Linked DNA regions of Homo sapiens: region 2 is linked to region 1. Evidence: fine-mapped expression QTL. Tissue or cell type: lung. Region 1 holds a variant in brackets; the other region holds the start of a gene. All regions are shown on one strand. Distances are from middle to middle.

What was found. PIP is the estimated chance that this variant, and not a neighbour inherited with it, causes the effect.
Region 2: it holds the start of SLC9A7, and the variant in region 1 is fine-mapped to the expression of SLC9A7 in lung (TOPMed, PIP 0.93).

Annotation. Positions count from the first base shown.
Region 1 is chrX:46,714,625-46,722,805 of GRCh38, reverse strand. All of the region lies in intron 1 of SLC9A7 (solute carrier family 9 member A7), which reads left to right. Among named protein-coding and RNA genes, the nearest start is that of SLC9A7, 40 kb to the left of the region's middle. The variant T/C (reference allele first, on the strand shown) is at 4,793.
Region 2 is chrX:46,755,314-46,763,494 of GRCh38, reverse strand. It overlaps SLC9A7 (solute carrier family 9 member A7), which reads left to right and starts at 4,377. Exons shown (of 17, transcript NM_001257291.2): 1 at 4,377-4,790. The coding sequence starts at 4,466. RefSeq lists silencers at 4,096-4,445, 4,466-4,605.

The sequences.
Region 1 (8,181 bases):
CTGGAGGTTTTCCCTGTACCTCTGATTGGAGCCCACAATAGAACTTGTGTATGGCATCTAATAAATTGCAATCCCAGTGTGACAAAGACCTGTAGGCACAGAGAAGAAATAACTTGGTCACATAAAGTTTTGGAGTTCCCAAATCACTCATTTAATGTTATTTTTAAACATCCATCTCTCATTTGGTTACTTTCTTTAATAGTCCAATTCTTTATGTGTAATACAGAAATCAAATATAAATGGGATTGATAAAAGTCCTTCTTTGCCTCGTGGAATTTTAGTTTTTACAAATAACCTTAGAATAATTCAGGTAACTAAGGTATTTGGAGTAACAGTGCTTACTTGTACATGAAGAACTCAACTATCACTCTCTGTTCCCCATTTTTCTGCAAGTAACTCAATTAGCTAGATTAACAAACATTGTCACAGAAACAAAGTGTTTTTTTTAAAGCTATGGATCCTTGTGTTTATATTTTTAAAAAGCCATAAACAGGCATTTCTACCTTATTAAGAGGACTTAAACAGGTGTTTAAACACTAAGACAGTGATGATTTTAAAACATAATAAAACTCTAAGTTAAGGCTTTTGTTTTGAAACCCACATTCATAGCTACTTATATGTGGAACACCTTTGTATTTGGGGGCAACGTGCTATTAAGGCTGTTGTTGACCCTAGTACTCACTACTCGCCCTTACACACACACACACCCCCACACCCACACACACACCCACCAGAGAGAAACAGTGTTTTTTTAGAACCCAGGACCATCAAAATAGTTTTTTGACTTATCAAGCCTTGAACTGGAATAGGAAACCCACATTTGTTCTAGTGTTTATGTGTTTAATAGTTCATACCATGAAGTTATATGTTGATTGCAGATGTGGGAAGCAAAATGGAAAAAAATGCATCTTGCTGACAAACATCGCCGACTGCCTTCACTAACTGCACTTAGCACAATACGTAATCATCTTTTCTCTTTGTTTACTCATTTATGGGCTACCCCTCCCTACCTGCTCTAGACTGAAGTTGAGAAAGGCAAGGCCTTTGCTTGTCTTCCTCGAGATTGCTCAGATATTGTTTGCAAGAGAGTCCCCATAGCCTTTGGTGGGTTGGTGGCTGTGATAGGGAGGGTCTTTTGTCAACCCTGGGCCTTCACTTTGGAAGCTGTGCTGTGTTGCAATTAATTCTAATAAACCCATGCAGCATCTGAAGATAACCCCACAGGGAATTGAATTTTGAAGCAAACGTGTTTATTTCTTGGAAGCTTAATGGATGGATTGGAAAAAAAAAAAGAATCATTTGCTTCTAGCTTTGGAAGCCAGAGAAACCACAGGCTGAGGAGCATGCCCTTGTCCCTCAGTCTCCTATTAGCTTGCAGCTCTAATTTCTATCCAGGGTAATATGACCGAGGGGAACTATTTGCATCTTTGAAAATTCCACTCTTCTGCTGGCTTATAACAATAGAACAGTGCAAATGTATCTTGTGTGTTCTCTACCATTATGGATAATTACTAATGAAGTCTCTTTCTGGCAATTCTCATTAAGTGATTTAATTTTAGAAGTGGAAAGAACCATACCTATTGGAACACTTGAATCTCAACAGACTATTAAACTTTATTAAGAATAAGAATTATTCCCTGGAATTTTGTAAGATCACCTTAAATCAAATTATATTTTCAAAAAGGACCATAAAGATAATTGCAGTAAGAAAAAATGTTTTAAATCATTATTAATGTAGTTATATGTATAAGGACCAGAGGCGATCCTTTTGTGGGCATGCCGATTTGAAGTCCTTTGTTCAGCCTGTTTGTTCTTAAGTTTAGATTTTGTTGTACTGTGAGGCCTTACGTTTAACATCCACTCATGTGATGCTTTATCACTTTTTTGAGAGGTTTTATTCTGGAAATTCAGGATATAGTCTTGGCAGTCTAAAAACGTAGGTGGTTTTGCTTTGTTATATCATCTCAGTGATCTTCAGGAGTTATTTGGATGATCAGTTCCATCAGCTAGGGTCCCCTTCTTTTCTCTTCTCTGCCACGGCTGTGAGGGAGGTCTTGGAGGACAATAATGCCAGGTAGAGGAGGATGCAAGGTGTATGTGGGGAATTCTGAGGAGTTGAATATGAGTGTTTATGTGTAGGGGCAGATGGCAGTGGGAAGTGAAATTGGCAGGTGCCAGTGCTTTGTGGGCCTTGAATGCCATGTTAAGGAGCTTGGATTTTTTTTTTTCCCATGGATGATGAAGCTGCTGAATAATTTTAAGCAGGGTCATGGCGTGACTAGCCTCATTTGTGATTCAGAGAAATTAGTCTGGTGGCTGATGGAGAAGGAATGATTGGGGAATCAGGGGAGAAGCAGGGGGGATAGTTAAGAAACGACTGCAGAAAATCCAGTCAGGGAGCTTGAACCAGAGTAATGATAATAAGGAGAAGAGGGGGTGATCAGGAAAATACTTGAGAAGTAGAGTTGGCAGGAGTGGGAAAGGACAGGATATGGGTGTGATGAGGTGCTACTCAGTGGCACTAAGTTTTTATGCTTGAATCAAATAATTGCTCAAGTCCTAGAACCAAAGTTAGTTTCTGAGGAAAGTCTTGTTTGTGATTATAGAACTTCTCTTCAGCAGACAAGAATATGCAGGTCAAGATCTTTGATTTCTTTTTCATAACAAGTATCATTACAACCAACATACCTGGAAGATGTAGCCTATAGATCTTTTATGTTACCAGCTATTGAGGTCCTCAGTAATGACCTTAATCATGTTTGTTGTTCATCTTGTTCTTGTCAGAAGGCTGGCTGAAAATTTTGGTATTTGAGAGAGGAATGTTCTTAAGGAATATATTACTTACTAGTTTCTCAAAAAACAATTTAAGTCAAAACATCAGGAAATGACAGATTAGACCATGTTATTGTGCCCTTCAGCCTTTCACTCCTGGAATTGCCCTTATAGAACCAAACTAACTTTATGTCTTTAGTTTTCTCTTAGAGCTACTCATATATGGAATGCCTTCACATTTAGGAGAAAAATGTTATTAAGGCTATTGACCTTCGTGGCCCCCTCCCCCTAATTTCCACAAAACCCTGAGATAGTTTCTTCTTAGAGCACAAGACCAACAAAATATTTTTTTGAGTTATCAAACCTTAAGCTAGAGTAGGAAACCTATGTTTGTTCTAGTGTTTTCTATTTTGTTCTTGTCAGCAAGAAGCACAAAGTTTTAAGCTTATTTTCTATGGTTTTCCTCAAACAACTTTTAAAATTATTATTTTTGTTGTGCTCTTTTATTTATTTTATTTATTATGCTCATATATTAACTGGTTTTGTGTTTTTAGTTTAACCCATTTTAGTCAGTTGGATAAATTTTTTTTATTATACTTTAAGTTCTAGGGTACATGTGTACAATGTGCAGGTTTGTTACATATGTATACATGTGCCATGTTGGTGTGCCGCACCCATTAACTCGTCATTTACGTTAGGTGTATCTCCTAATGCTATCCCTTCCCCCTCCCCCCACCCCACGACAGGCCCCGGTGTGTGATGTTCCCCACCCTGTGTCCAAGTGTTCTCATTGTTCAATTCCCACCTATCAGTGAGAATATGCAGTGTTTGGTTTTCTGTCCTTGTGATAGTTTGCTCAGAATGATGGTTTCTAGCTTCATCCATGTCCCTACAAAGGATAGGAACTCATCCTTTTTATGGCTGCATAGTGTTCCATGGTGTATATGTGCCACATTTTCTTAATCCAGTCTATCATTGATGGACATTTGGGTTGGCTCCAAGTCTGCTATTGTGAATAGTGCCACAATAAACATATGTGTGCATGTGTCTTTATAGCAGCATGATTTATAATCCTTTGGGTATATACCCAGTAATGGGATGGCTGGGTCAAATGGTATATCTAGTTCTAGATCCTTGAGGAATCACCACACTGTCTTCCACAATGGTTGAACTAGTTTACAGTCCCACCAACAGTGTAAAAGTGTTCCTGTTTCTCCACATCCTCTCCAGCACCTGATGTTTCCTGACTTTTTAATGATCGCCATTCTAACTGGTGTGACATGGTATCTCATTGTGGTTTTGATTTGCATTTCTCTGATGGCCAGTGATGATGAGCATTTTTTCATGTGTCTGTTGGCTGCATAAATGTCTTCTTTTGAGAAGTGTCTGTTCATATCCTTCACCCACTTATTGATGGGGTTGTTTGATTTTTTCTTGTAAATTTGTTAAGTTCTTTGTAGATTCTGGATATTAGCCCTTTGTCAGATAGGTAGATTGTAAAAATCTTCTCCCATTCTGTAGGTTGCCTGTTCACTCTGATGGTGGTTTCTTTTGCTGTGCAGAAGCTCTTTAGTTTAATTAGATCCCATTTGTCAATTTTGGCTTTTGTTGCCATTGCTTTTGGTGTTTTAGACATGAAGTCCTTGCCCAGGCCTGTGTCCTGAATGGTATTGCCTAGGTTTTCTTCTAGGGTTTTAATGGTTTTAGGTCTAACATTTAAGTCTTTAATCCATCTTGAATTAATTTTTGTATAAGGTGTAAGGAAGGGATCCAGTTTCAGCTTTCTACATATGGCTAGCCAGTTTTCCCAGCACCATTTATTAAATAGGGAATCCTTTCCCCATTTCTTGTTTTCGTCAGGTTTGTCAAAGATCAGATGGTTGTGTATGTGTGGTATTATTTCTGAGGGCTCTGTTCTGTTCCATTGGTCTTTATCTCTGTTTTGGTACCAGTACCCTGCTGTTTTGGTTACTGTAGCTTTGTAGTATAGTTTGAAGTCAGGTAGCGTGATGCCTCCAGC[T/C]TTGTTCTTTTGGCTTAGGATTGTCTTGGCAATGTGGGCTCGTTTTTGGTTTCATATGAACTTTAAAGTAGTTTTTTCCAATTCTGTGAAGAAAGTCATTGGTAGCTTGATTGGGGGTGGCATTGAATCTATGAATTACCTTGGGCAGTATGGCCATTTTCATGATATTGATTCTTCCTATCCATGAGCATGGAATGTTCTTCCATTTGTTTGTGTCCTCTTTTATTTCATTGAGCAGTGGTTTGTAGTTCTCCTTTAAGAGGTCTTTCACAGCCCTTGAAAGTTGCAGTTGGATAAATATTTAAAGTATGTTTCTGAAATGAATAAAGATTGGGGCCAGGCATGGTGGCTCACACCTGTAATCCTAGCACTTTGGGAGGCTGAGATGGGTGGATCACTTGAGGTTAGGAGTTCGAGACCAGCCTTGCCAACATGATGAAGCCCCATCTCTACTAAAAATACAAAAATTAGCCAGGTACAGTGGCGCACATGTGTAATTCCAGCTTCTCAGGAGGCTGAGGCAGGAGAATCGCTTGAACCCCAGAGGTGGAGGTTGCAGTGAGCTGAGATTGTGCCACTGCACTCCAGCCTGGGCCACAGAGCAGACTGTGTCTCAAAAAAAAGATTTTGGATGACCCTACATCAGTATTTTTTGGGACATTTAAGAAGATGACTGCTCCTTGTGCAGTAATTTTCTCTTAAAAACTTCAAAACACTTTATTACACAAATACAAGAAAAATTAACACAAGTATCAGGGTGATTTTTGTGGTACAATGTGGCATTTCTAATCACCTGACCTTTGGTATAATTAGTATGTATAATGTATCTGTCCATCTTATAGAACTCAGAGCACCTTTTGAGTATTTTCCAGGAATATGTAACACAATTTCAACTTTGGTTTTTATGACATAGTTCTTGTCTGCAATGCTGATTACTTACTCAAGAATGGGACACCCCCTTCCCAATTATTTCACAATTTCTTTAGGAAAATGCGGTTATTCTGGTGGATGCGTGTTGCCATAACTCATGAGACCAGGTGTCCACAATGGAGAAGTAGGGCTAGGATTTTTTGTTTCATTTCTGTCCTGGGCAGCCTTTATCGTTTTGGTCAGAGTTCTGGCTTTATCCAGAAGCCAAGTGACTTCAGTACAAGGTGGTTTCCCCTTCCCCAAACAGCAGGGAACTAGAATCAGAAACAGGAAAAAATAAATAAATAAAAAGAAACACATTATGATCAAAATAGCTTCAAATAAGGTTTTAAAGCCACTTGGGTACTATTTGCCTATTGATATCAGAATCGTCCCTTCTTGTTTGGGTATAAATCAGTTAGATCTCCAATTTGCTAATGGTTACAATGGATATTTTAAACCAGAAGAGTCAGTACATTTATGATAGCCATAGAGTCTGCATGATTCTATATTTAAAGTGTTTTAGGGGGTGAGTGAGTGGGAATTTGAGAACAGACTTGGGCAAGGAAATTCCTTCCCCTCTGTGCTTTTGTAGCACCTGTGTCTGTTGCAGCATTTGTGCTGTGTGCTAGAGCTTCTGGTCTTACTGAAGAGGATCCTGCCTAAGTCGTCTCAGGGTTCATAGCATCCAGTGGCTGAATGTTTATTGAATTAAGGCAGGCAATAGGGATTCCTTTCTTGGTTTATCAATGTTTGTTTCTTCTCTTTTTAATAAAGAAACTGGCTGGTTTCTATTTGCGTGCTCAAAATAAGCATATCTTTACCAAGTCAGAGCCCTCTAAGGCCCTGCAAATTCTCACCTTACCACTTATCCCCTTAATGATATATCATGCATCTAGGTTTATGCATCTGAGCATTGGACTGGGATCTAGAAGTCTCAGGTCTGAGTCACTCCTTCAGTCTTCAGTACCCATCTTCACTTGAGCAGACCACTTAATATCTCTAGACTTCAACATCTTGATTTATAAAATAAGATTACTATTATAAGTCAGGGGCTGTCTATATGTGCACTGCCTGCCTTAAGGACTTTTGCCAGAAATAAAATTAAGTAATGTACAGATGTTCCTTGACTTATGATGGAGTTATGTCCTGATAAAGCCATCATAAGTTTAAAATATTGCAATTTGAAAATGCATTTAATGCACCTTACCTACCAAACATCATAGCTTAGCCCAGCTGACCGAAAATGTGCTCAGAACACTTACATTAGCCTGCAATTGGGCAATATCATCTAACACAATGCCTGTTTCATAATAAAGTGTTGAATAGCTCATAATTTATTGAATACCATACTGAAAGTGAAAACAGAATGGTTGTATGGATACTCAAAGTTCAGTTTCTACTGAATGTGTATCGCTTTTGCACCATCTTAAAGGGGAAAAATTGTAAGTCAATTCTAAGTCAGAGGGCATGTATAAGGCTTCTCAAGACTGAAAAATACACTCTGTGCGACATTTGTCATTTTCAACTAACCGAGAATGAGGGCACATTCGCAAAAATTTGATTAGATTCAGAATTTAACCTTATACCACTGGACTCATATTTTTGGGATCAGTGAATCATAATGTAGTTATTAACAATTTTGTGACCATTTCCAGGAACTAACTGTAACTGAGCCATTACAAAGAAAAAGCTGTTCAGTTATAGGGACCCAAAAATATACCAAATCAGTCAAGTGTTTATTGAATGCCTACTGTATGCCTGTTACTGTGCTATTCCACATGTGAAATAGAAAAGAAATCTTACCTATAGGTCTGATCCTCAAGGAATTTACAGTCTAGTTAGGGAGGGAATAATTTAAGAACTGGACTAATCTGTGATATAAATAAATACTTTAAAAATTCTTTAAAAATTATTTTTAGGATACTTATTGAGAGAAATGAGATATCAATGTGAGTAAGGAGCTTGGGTAGGGTCTTAAAGAGTTGAAATTAAACCTGGGAACATAATCCAAGTGGAAAGGAATTTTGTCAAGATGGAATAATTTAATCTAGCGCAATGTCTGATATATAGTACATGCTCAATAAGTATTAATTTGCTTGATGAATGAATCTCTTTCAACAAATTTATCTTCTAGTTTGCCAGTTCTCTCTTTACTGTGTCTAGTCTGCTGTTGAACTTGAAAATGAAATAAAAATGCTAAGGTCATGTTTTTCTTTTCCAGGATTTCTATTGGTTCTTTCTAAACTCACAATCCTCTACTCCACACTACACTCCTTAACCCTTTCCCTGCCTTATTTTTAGCCATAGCACCTACCGTATTCTAACATACCATGTAATCTACTTATTTTGTTTCTTATGTTTCTTCCCTTATTAGAAATATAACGAAGTCCAGAAAAGCAGGAATTTGTATTTGTTTCGTTCACTGACATATATCTCCAAACACTAGAACAGTGCCTGGGACATAGTAGGATCTCAAA
Region 2 (8,181 bases), 41 kb before region 1:
TGGAGTGTCACTCTGTCACCCAGGCTGGAGCGCAGTGGTGCGATCTCAGTTCACTGCAAACTCCACCTCCCAGGTTCAAGTTATTCTCCTGCCTCAGCCTCCCAGTAGCTGGGATTACAGGCACATGCCACCATGCCCAGTGAATTTCTGTATTTTTAGTAGAGATGGGGTTTCACCATGTTGGCCAGGCTGGTCTGGAACTCCTGACCTTGTGATCTACCCGCTTTGGCTTCCCAAAGTGCTGGGATTACAGGTGTGAGCCACTGTGCCCAGCCTAAAATTTCAATTTGGTTCTTCTTTTATCTTTTACTCCTGTGCTGAGCCTTTTATCCTTACATTCATTTCAAGATTATTTGTCCTTACTTGTTGGAGCATCATTATAATAGCTGCTTTAAAGTCTTTTTCAGATAATTCCAACATTGGTGTCACCTCAGCAGTGGTGTCTGTTGTTTGCCTTTTCCCACCCAAGTTAAGATTTTCATGGTTCTTCAGGTATTGAATAATTTTGGGTTGTATCCTGGACATTTTGAATATTATGTTATAGGACTTTGTATCTTGTTTTAATACTATGGGGAAATATTCATATTTTTGTTTTAGTTTGTAATAGACATGCTTGGGTTTAGATCACAAGTTCTGACATGCCTTTTGTGGATAGTGGCTCCAAAGTCAATTCAGTTTTCAAAAGTTTGTAATGCTATTCAGATCTGTCCTACATGTGTTTTATCCAGTGGCTAGTCTAGGGCTTGGGTGGTGGTCTGCCTCTTAGTTCAGTTATCACAGTCTTTGGTATGCTGTTTAGGATCAGATCCATGTGCAGGTTGGGGTGAACCTAGGAGTTCATAAAAACTTTATGAGGACCTTTCCCAAGGTCCTCTCCTCTCTACTGTCTCCTTGGTACTTTGTAATGCCTTGGAGTTCCCCTTTTAATCAATTGGCAAGAAATCTAGACTATTTAATTTATTTAAAGACAGGGTCTCGCTCTGTCGCCCAGGCTGGAGTACAGTGGTGTGATCATAGCTCACTGTAGCCTCGAACTCCTGAGCTCAAGTGAGCCTCCCACCTTAGCCTCTTGAGTAGCCAAGACTACAGGCAAGCACTACAGTGCCCAGCTAATTTTATTTTTAAATGTTTCATAGAGACAGGGTCTTGCTACATTGCCCAGGCTGTTCTCCAACTCCTGGCCTCAACAAATCCACTCACCTCAGCCTCCCAAAATGTTGGGATTACAGGGGTGAGCCACTGTGCCTGTCCAGAAATCTGGGTCTTTATTTAATCCTCTCTGTTATGTATTTCCTGAAACTTTGCCCATGTCTTGGGCCAAGCATCAGGACAGAGAGAGTGAAAAAATATATATCATTGAGGTTTTGGCCCCACTGTCTTGGGACCAGAGCTACTTCAAACAGAGAGGAAGGTTCTCCCCTCCCTTAGCATTTTTTGGGTGCTTGAAGGTATTGCTGTCTCCATTGTCACTGTTGACTGAGGTGCCACAGTGGGATTGCTTATTGGCTAAAATGTAAGAGAATGGAGAAAAGAAAAAAAATGGCACATTTCTCCTACTTTCTCTGAATATTAGGAGACCAATTTTCTGCTTTTCCTGGAGCTCTCTCTGTCCATGTTGATGCTCCCTTCCGGGTGTTAAGCTGCCTTGAGTCCAGTCTAGTGGAGACTGGAGGAAAAAAATGGTAAACTCACCGCCAGTTCAGTTTTACTTCAAATTCTGTTGTTTTTCCTCAGTTTATGTGGTACAATTTACTTTCCAGAGTCCTCAAATAGTTGCTGCATGCATTCTGTTCACATTTTATAGCTGTATTCAGTAGCAGGTAATGGGTTTAGTGTGATTATTCTGTGTTAACTGAAATCAGAACTCCTGTATTATATAGGTTAGTTTTCACACATAAATATGTAGAGATAATGGAGTGTTTTCTTTGGTGTGTATTTGTGAATGGTTGGGACTAGTCTTTTCATACTCTACCCAAGGGAACTACTTTACATAATAAATACTCTTCTGGTTATCTATTGCTGTGGAAGAAACCACCCTCAAACTTAGTAGCTTAAAATAACACCAATCATTTTATTATGCTACAGTTGCAGATGTTGGTTAGGTTCAGCGACATGGTTCTTGCTTGGGGCCTCTCATATGTCTACAGTAAGATGGTGGCTGGGAATGAATTGATTTGAAGACTCATTCATTCACATGTGTGGCATTTGGGCTGGGAACACTCAAAAAGTTGGGTCTCCTGTGGCATCTACCTCTATTGCTACATGGTCTCTCTACATGGTTTCTTCAGTATGTCAGCTTCCAGGTAGCTAGATTTCTTTGTCTGTTTGTTTGTTTTTTTGTTTTTGGAGGCAGGGTCTCACTCTGTCACTCAGGCTGGAGTGCAGTGGTGCAATCTTGGCTCACTGCAACCTCTGCCTCCCAGGTTCAAGTGATTCTCGTGCCACCACCTCCCAAGTAGCTGGGATTACAGGCACACACCACCACACCCGGCTAATTTTTGTATTTTTAGTGGAGACAGGGTTTTGCCATGTTGGTCAGGCTGGTCTTGAACTCCTGACCTCAGGTGATCCGCCCGCCTTGGCCTCCCAAAGTGCTGGGATTACAGGCGTGAGCCACCGTGCCCAGCCTAGCTAGAGTGGAAAGTGACAGAATGAAACAGGCAGGAGCTAGATTACCTTTTATGACCTAGCCTCACAAATCACATAATCTCCATTACCACATTATATTCTTTGAGGGAGTCACAAAGGTCCACTGAGGTTCAAGGGGAGGGAACATAGATGCCCCTTCTTGATGGGGGATGGTAAGGTTCTGGGATTGGAAATATGATTGTGGCCATCTTTTTAAAAAATACAATCCGCCACAAATACTAAGAAGTCTGTACTTTTAAGGTAGCTCCTGAGTTGCCCTTTTCTAAAGAGAGAAATTCTGTCCTTGAGTACTGGGCACCCAAAGGGGCATAATATTATGACCAACACAGTGCCCATCCAGGTTTTAAGTATTTGCAATTTTATTGGAAACCTGTGTGGAACTTCAAGGTATACGGATGTTTGCAGGGGCTGAGTGACTGCCTAGAGGAGTTGGGAAAGGGGCTAGCTAAAATGTAGATGAAGAGATTTCCCTGCTTTAAAGAAACCACTAAACAGCTTTGGCAGAGTGCTCACCTACAGGGGAACCAGGAAGGCTGCAGTACTCCAAAGAGTTTTCTTACCTAATGCTACCTCTACCCTATTATTTCATTTGGTTAAGCATCACCTTCTTCAATGAATCCTCTTAAAAATGCAAACTCCCCTGGGAGCGAAAACATGGGCAGTTTTGGTAGAGATTTCAGAGTGGTTCAATAAACACATGAGTACAGTGCTAAGCACTGGGAACTCAGTGATTAATCTGATCTTGTTTCTTCCTTGACCAGAGGAGCAAGGTGGATTGAAGATTCTAGTTTTCCTGAGAATTTGTTCCAAGAGGCTTCATCCTTCAGAGTCCACGCCATAATTTTGTTCAGAGCTGGGTTTGGTCTTAAGAGTCATTAAAAGACTCTCTGAGCTACCAGGTGAGCAACATAAAAGAAAGGGTCATCAGGGTAACCCCCACCCCCCACCACCACCTTAGGACCAGCTACTGCTCATCTACCAGGAATGGCAAGCGTTCAGTTCCTTCTGGTTCAACCCTATTCCCCAAGGGGATTAGTAGCACAGCGCAGACGAAGTCTATTCCCTCAAGTGAGGAAGGAGATACTTCAATGCCCTCCCCCGATTCCAACTCCTTATCAGTCCTCACATTTGAGTCTGATGAGAACAGAGGTTTGAATGAAACCTAGCAGATTCTGGGGCTGGAAGGGCAACCTGAGAGATGAGGAAAGAGAGGTGTAGGGGCTAACGTGGCTTCGGGGCTGCTCGGTTCACTGACAGCCCCCACTTTACTGGGCCCAGGGCGGCTGCACACTGGCCTGAGATTAAACACTTCGCCGTGGCGCCAGAGACGGGACTCGAGACCGCAAGGCTAGTCACTCCAAGCCGATGCTCCCGCTAGGCGCCGGCGACCTCTGGCGTCCCCTTTCGGAAGTGCGGCGGCGGCTGCCCATGAACTGGCCCCACGACCCCAGACTGCCTGGGCAGGTGCGCCAGGACGGGGTGAGAAGCGCAGAGAGGCAAGCAGCCGGCGGCCGGCCCGCAGACCCGAGGGCAACACCCGGCCCCGCCTGGGTGGCTCGGTTGGCCCGCGGGGCGGTGCGGCGTGGCGCGGCCGGGGGACGAACAGGTGCGCGGGCGGGGGGCGGTGCTTGGGGATCCTGCGCACTGCGCGCGCCCCTCCCCCGCGCGGCCCCGGGCGCAGCCCCGGCCCGGCGCGAGTAGGAGGAGGAGCTGCAGCGGCCACGGCCACTCCGGCAGGTCCGCGGTGCTGCCAGAACCCGCCGACGGCGCGGGCTGCTGGTCCCCGCTCGGAGGAGGCGCGGGGGGCCCCGGGACCATGGAGCCTGGTGACGCGGCGCGCCCTGGCTCGGGTCGGGCTACCGGGGCGCCGCCGCCGCGGCTGCTGCTGCTGCCGCTGCTGCTGGGTTGGGGGCTGCGAGTCGCGGCCGCGGCCTCGGCCTCCTCCTCTGGGGCGGCGGCGGAGGACAGCAGCGCCATGGAGGAGCTCGCTACTGAGAAGGAGGCGGAGGAGAGCCACCGGCAAGACAGCGTGAGCCTGCTCACCTTCATCCTGCTGCTCACGCTCACCATCCTCACCATCTGGCTCTTCAAGCACCGCCGGGTGCGCTTTCTGCACGAGACCGGGCTGGCCATGATCTATGGTGAGCACCCCTGTTACACCCCCCGCCCTCCACACCCCTCGGCCGCCGCGCTCCTCCTGGCGCCGCGCGGTGCTCCCCCTTCACTTGCCAACGTGTTCCGTTTCTTTTACGTTTCCCGCTGCGACGGTGTTGGTTCCCAAGGTCAACTGTCTGCATTTTCTGGCTCTCTGCTACCGTTAAAAACAATTCCACCCCTATTCCACGTTTCTGCATTGGGAACCCAGGAAAATGAAAGGGACAGAGGTGGTCCGGTTCCGTCTGCCCCGTTCGGTCTCTGTTGCAAACCTCTTACCCACCACCTCCCGCTCCAGTTGAGCTCGATAGGGTGTGTGTGCCTGCGTGGTGGCTGGAGGTGGGTGGCTTCCCAGGTGACTGCATCACCTCAGGGGACAGGCCACAGTAGGGAGTGGGGACGAAGTCTGAAAGTGTCTTTGCTTGGGTATGGGTTAGTGGGGCCTCTTGGACGCCACATCCATGGTCAGCCTGGGTGGGTACCCACTCCTGAGGTCCACATTCCCAGGTCTCTTAATGATAAAGTCAGAGCATGAAGTGTGGTGAAAGGTGAGCAGTGGTCCAGGACCCAGAGTGGGTGGCACCACCATGTCAGGCCTGGACGAGGAGACAGGCACGCCTCCTGCTCTTATGTCCCGAGTGGAAAGTTATACCCAGTTACTTGCTTTCTCAAACGAAGAGGAGCTTTTGTATTCCTAAGACGGTAACAGGGAGTGAGTTTGAGATACATTTCCGAATGTATGAAGGGGAAAAGTCGTGGTTTTAATTCCGGAGTCAGCCATCTTTTGTTGTTAGGGGTGGGCTGATGCTACCATCCTTTTCTAGATTTAATGGTACACAGTGTGTTACATGCACAGTGGTCAGTACAAATCTCCCTTTATTACATGGATGTCAGCCATAATCTGAGTCATCCCTCTTCCTCTTCTGTGCCCCCTGCCTCCCCCCTCGCCCTGCCCATGACTCCAAAGTGGAGTCAGGTATTCTCTTTTTGAATGTAATTCAGTGGTGTTAAAGCCCCTGAATTGGCATCCTCACACGAAATAGACGAGCCACTTCATGATTGTTCCCAACGGGGAAAATTTTATTTTATCACATATACTGAGGGATTTCTTTATTCAGTTTCCATCCAGGTGCCCTGATAGAGAATGGAAAGCAGAAACCTTAACCTTTAATGTGAAAATTACCCTTGGTTCTGGGCCTTGCTTCTCATGTTTCTTGATTAGTTGTTGACAGCCGGGGCTCATGGCCACCAGGCCCTCGCAGCCAAACCGTGTAAGGGGCAAGCGCTGTTAAGAGCCCTCCAGTTTTGATGAAGTAGTGACCTACACAGATCTTGAAACAGGACCAGGTCTAAAACCGAGTTTGGTGATTGCGAATTATAGGTCTCAACACAGACTTTGGCCTCCATCCCTGACCGTTGTTGAGCTCTGTGGTTTGTGTCAGTTGGTGATAAATGACTGATGCCAGGCCTGCAGGTAAGCTGGGAGGTTTCCTGAGAAGACAGACAGGGGGGAATTGAAGCACGTGGTCATTGCAGGTGATTGACTCCAAGCCATGATGCAAATGAAAATTGCCTTTATATAGATAACCGTGAAAATATTTTTATTTAATAGGCCCTAGACCCAGTTTCTTAAAGGACAATGTGAAATAGGAGGTAGATTTGTCAGATTCGTAAACACATGCTCAAGGGATGGAAAATAAATGGGGATTTGAAAATATATTTTCTGGAGAGTACTCCGTGTTCTGAGGAGTTCAATCACCTTTATCTTAAGGCTTAAAGACAACAGTGGAATTTTCCTTTGCTGATACGTACTTTTAAAACTCACCTCCATCTTTCAGCCATTTGGTTGTGCTACAGTGTACTGTTTTATTTTGTGAACAATCAAGTTACAAATCTAGTGTAACTGATGGCTGTTCAGAAAAGGCAATATCATCTCAGCATTCCTGTGTAATTTTGTTCTATATCTTTGAGTATTAGTGTTTCTTTAAATGTATAAAGAAATTTAGTTTGTCAATATGTGATGTCTCAGGTTATGCCAAATATTAATATTTTAAGGACTGTCTGTAATTGTGAGAAAACATTTCTTCTTTCTCTCAGGTATGTTTGGTCTTCTACTGCAAGGTCCCCCTAATCTGAATTCTAATGTCATGTGATTAGCTAATTATTCATAGTATACTGAAGACTATTGGGATGGGGATTTTAAACTGATCTTAAAATTCAGTTTGCAAATCTTTTAAAAAATTGTCTGCATTTAAGATGTACAACATGATGTTTTGATAAACACAATGAAATGATTACTACTGTCAAGCAAATCTTTGAACACAAGTAAATCCAGTAAAGATTTTTCAAGACTTCTCTTTTTTAATAGTAAAAAATAAAATTTGATTTCTCTATATCAATAGAGGAAGTGAGTAATTGTCCTCTTGGCTCTGAATAAGGAACGACAAAAAGACCTAAGGAAACATTTTTAAAGTATCCACTGTGTGCTGGGAACCCAACTTAATTTCTGGAGGCAAACAATTTAACTTTTAAATGTTTATGAATGAAAGAGTTCAACTGTGAATTTCAAAACTCTTTATTTTGAGAAAAAGTTTTAAAATGTAATTTCTGCCACCTTTTTGTGTTTAAGTGACACTTTAATCTGAGAAGAACAGCGTTTACATTTAAGATAAATTTATATATATATAAATTTATATATTTGTTGGTATAGTCGTAAAATATCTCTGGAAGGACATGCAATAGATGAGTAACATTGGTTTCCTTGGGGGAGAGGAACTAGATGGCTGTGAAATAGGAGTGGGAGGGAGAGGTCACCATATAACCTTGTATGCTTCTTGGTCTTGTAATAGCTTTTTTTTTTTTTTTTTTCCAAGACGGAGTCTCACTCTGTCGCCCAGGCTTGAATGCAGTAGCGCAATCTCGGCTCACTGCAAACTCCACCTCCCGGATTCAAGCAATTCTTCATCTCAGCCTCCTGAGTAGCTGGGATTACAGGCGCCCGCCACCATGCCCGGCTAAATTTTGTATTTTTAGTAGAGATTGGGTTTCACCATCTTGGCCAGGCTGGTCTTGAACTCCTGACCTCCACCCACCTCAGCCTCCCAAAGTGCTGGGATTACAGGTGTGAGCCACCGCACCCGGCTGTAATAGCATTTTAACGTGCTCCTCAAATCACTCAATTTGACGCCTACTTCTCCCTATTTAAATCACATTATGTTATCAATTTTCTTCATGACTTTTCAATTCTTAATTGTGCCCTTGGAGCTTTTCTGAGCCCTGTGTCTGGGATGGAGATAAAATGGGGAAAGGGGAAGAGATTTCTCTCTCTCTCTCCCTCCCTCCCTCCCTCTCTCACCCTCTCTTTCCCACTCGCTCTCT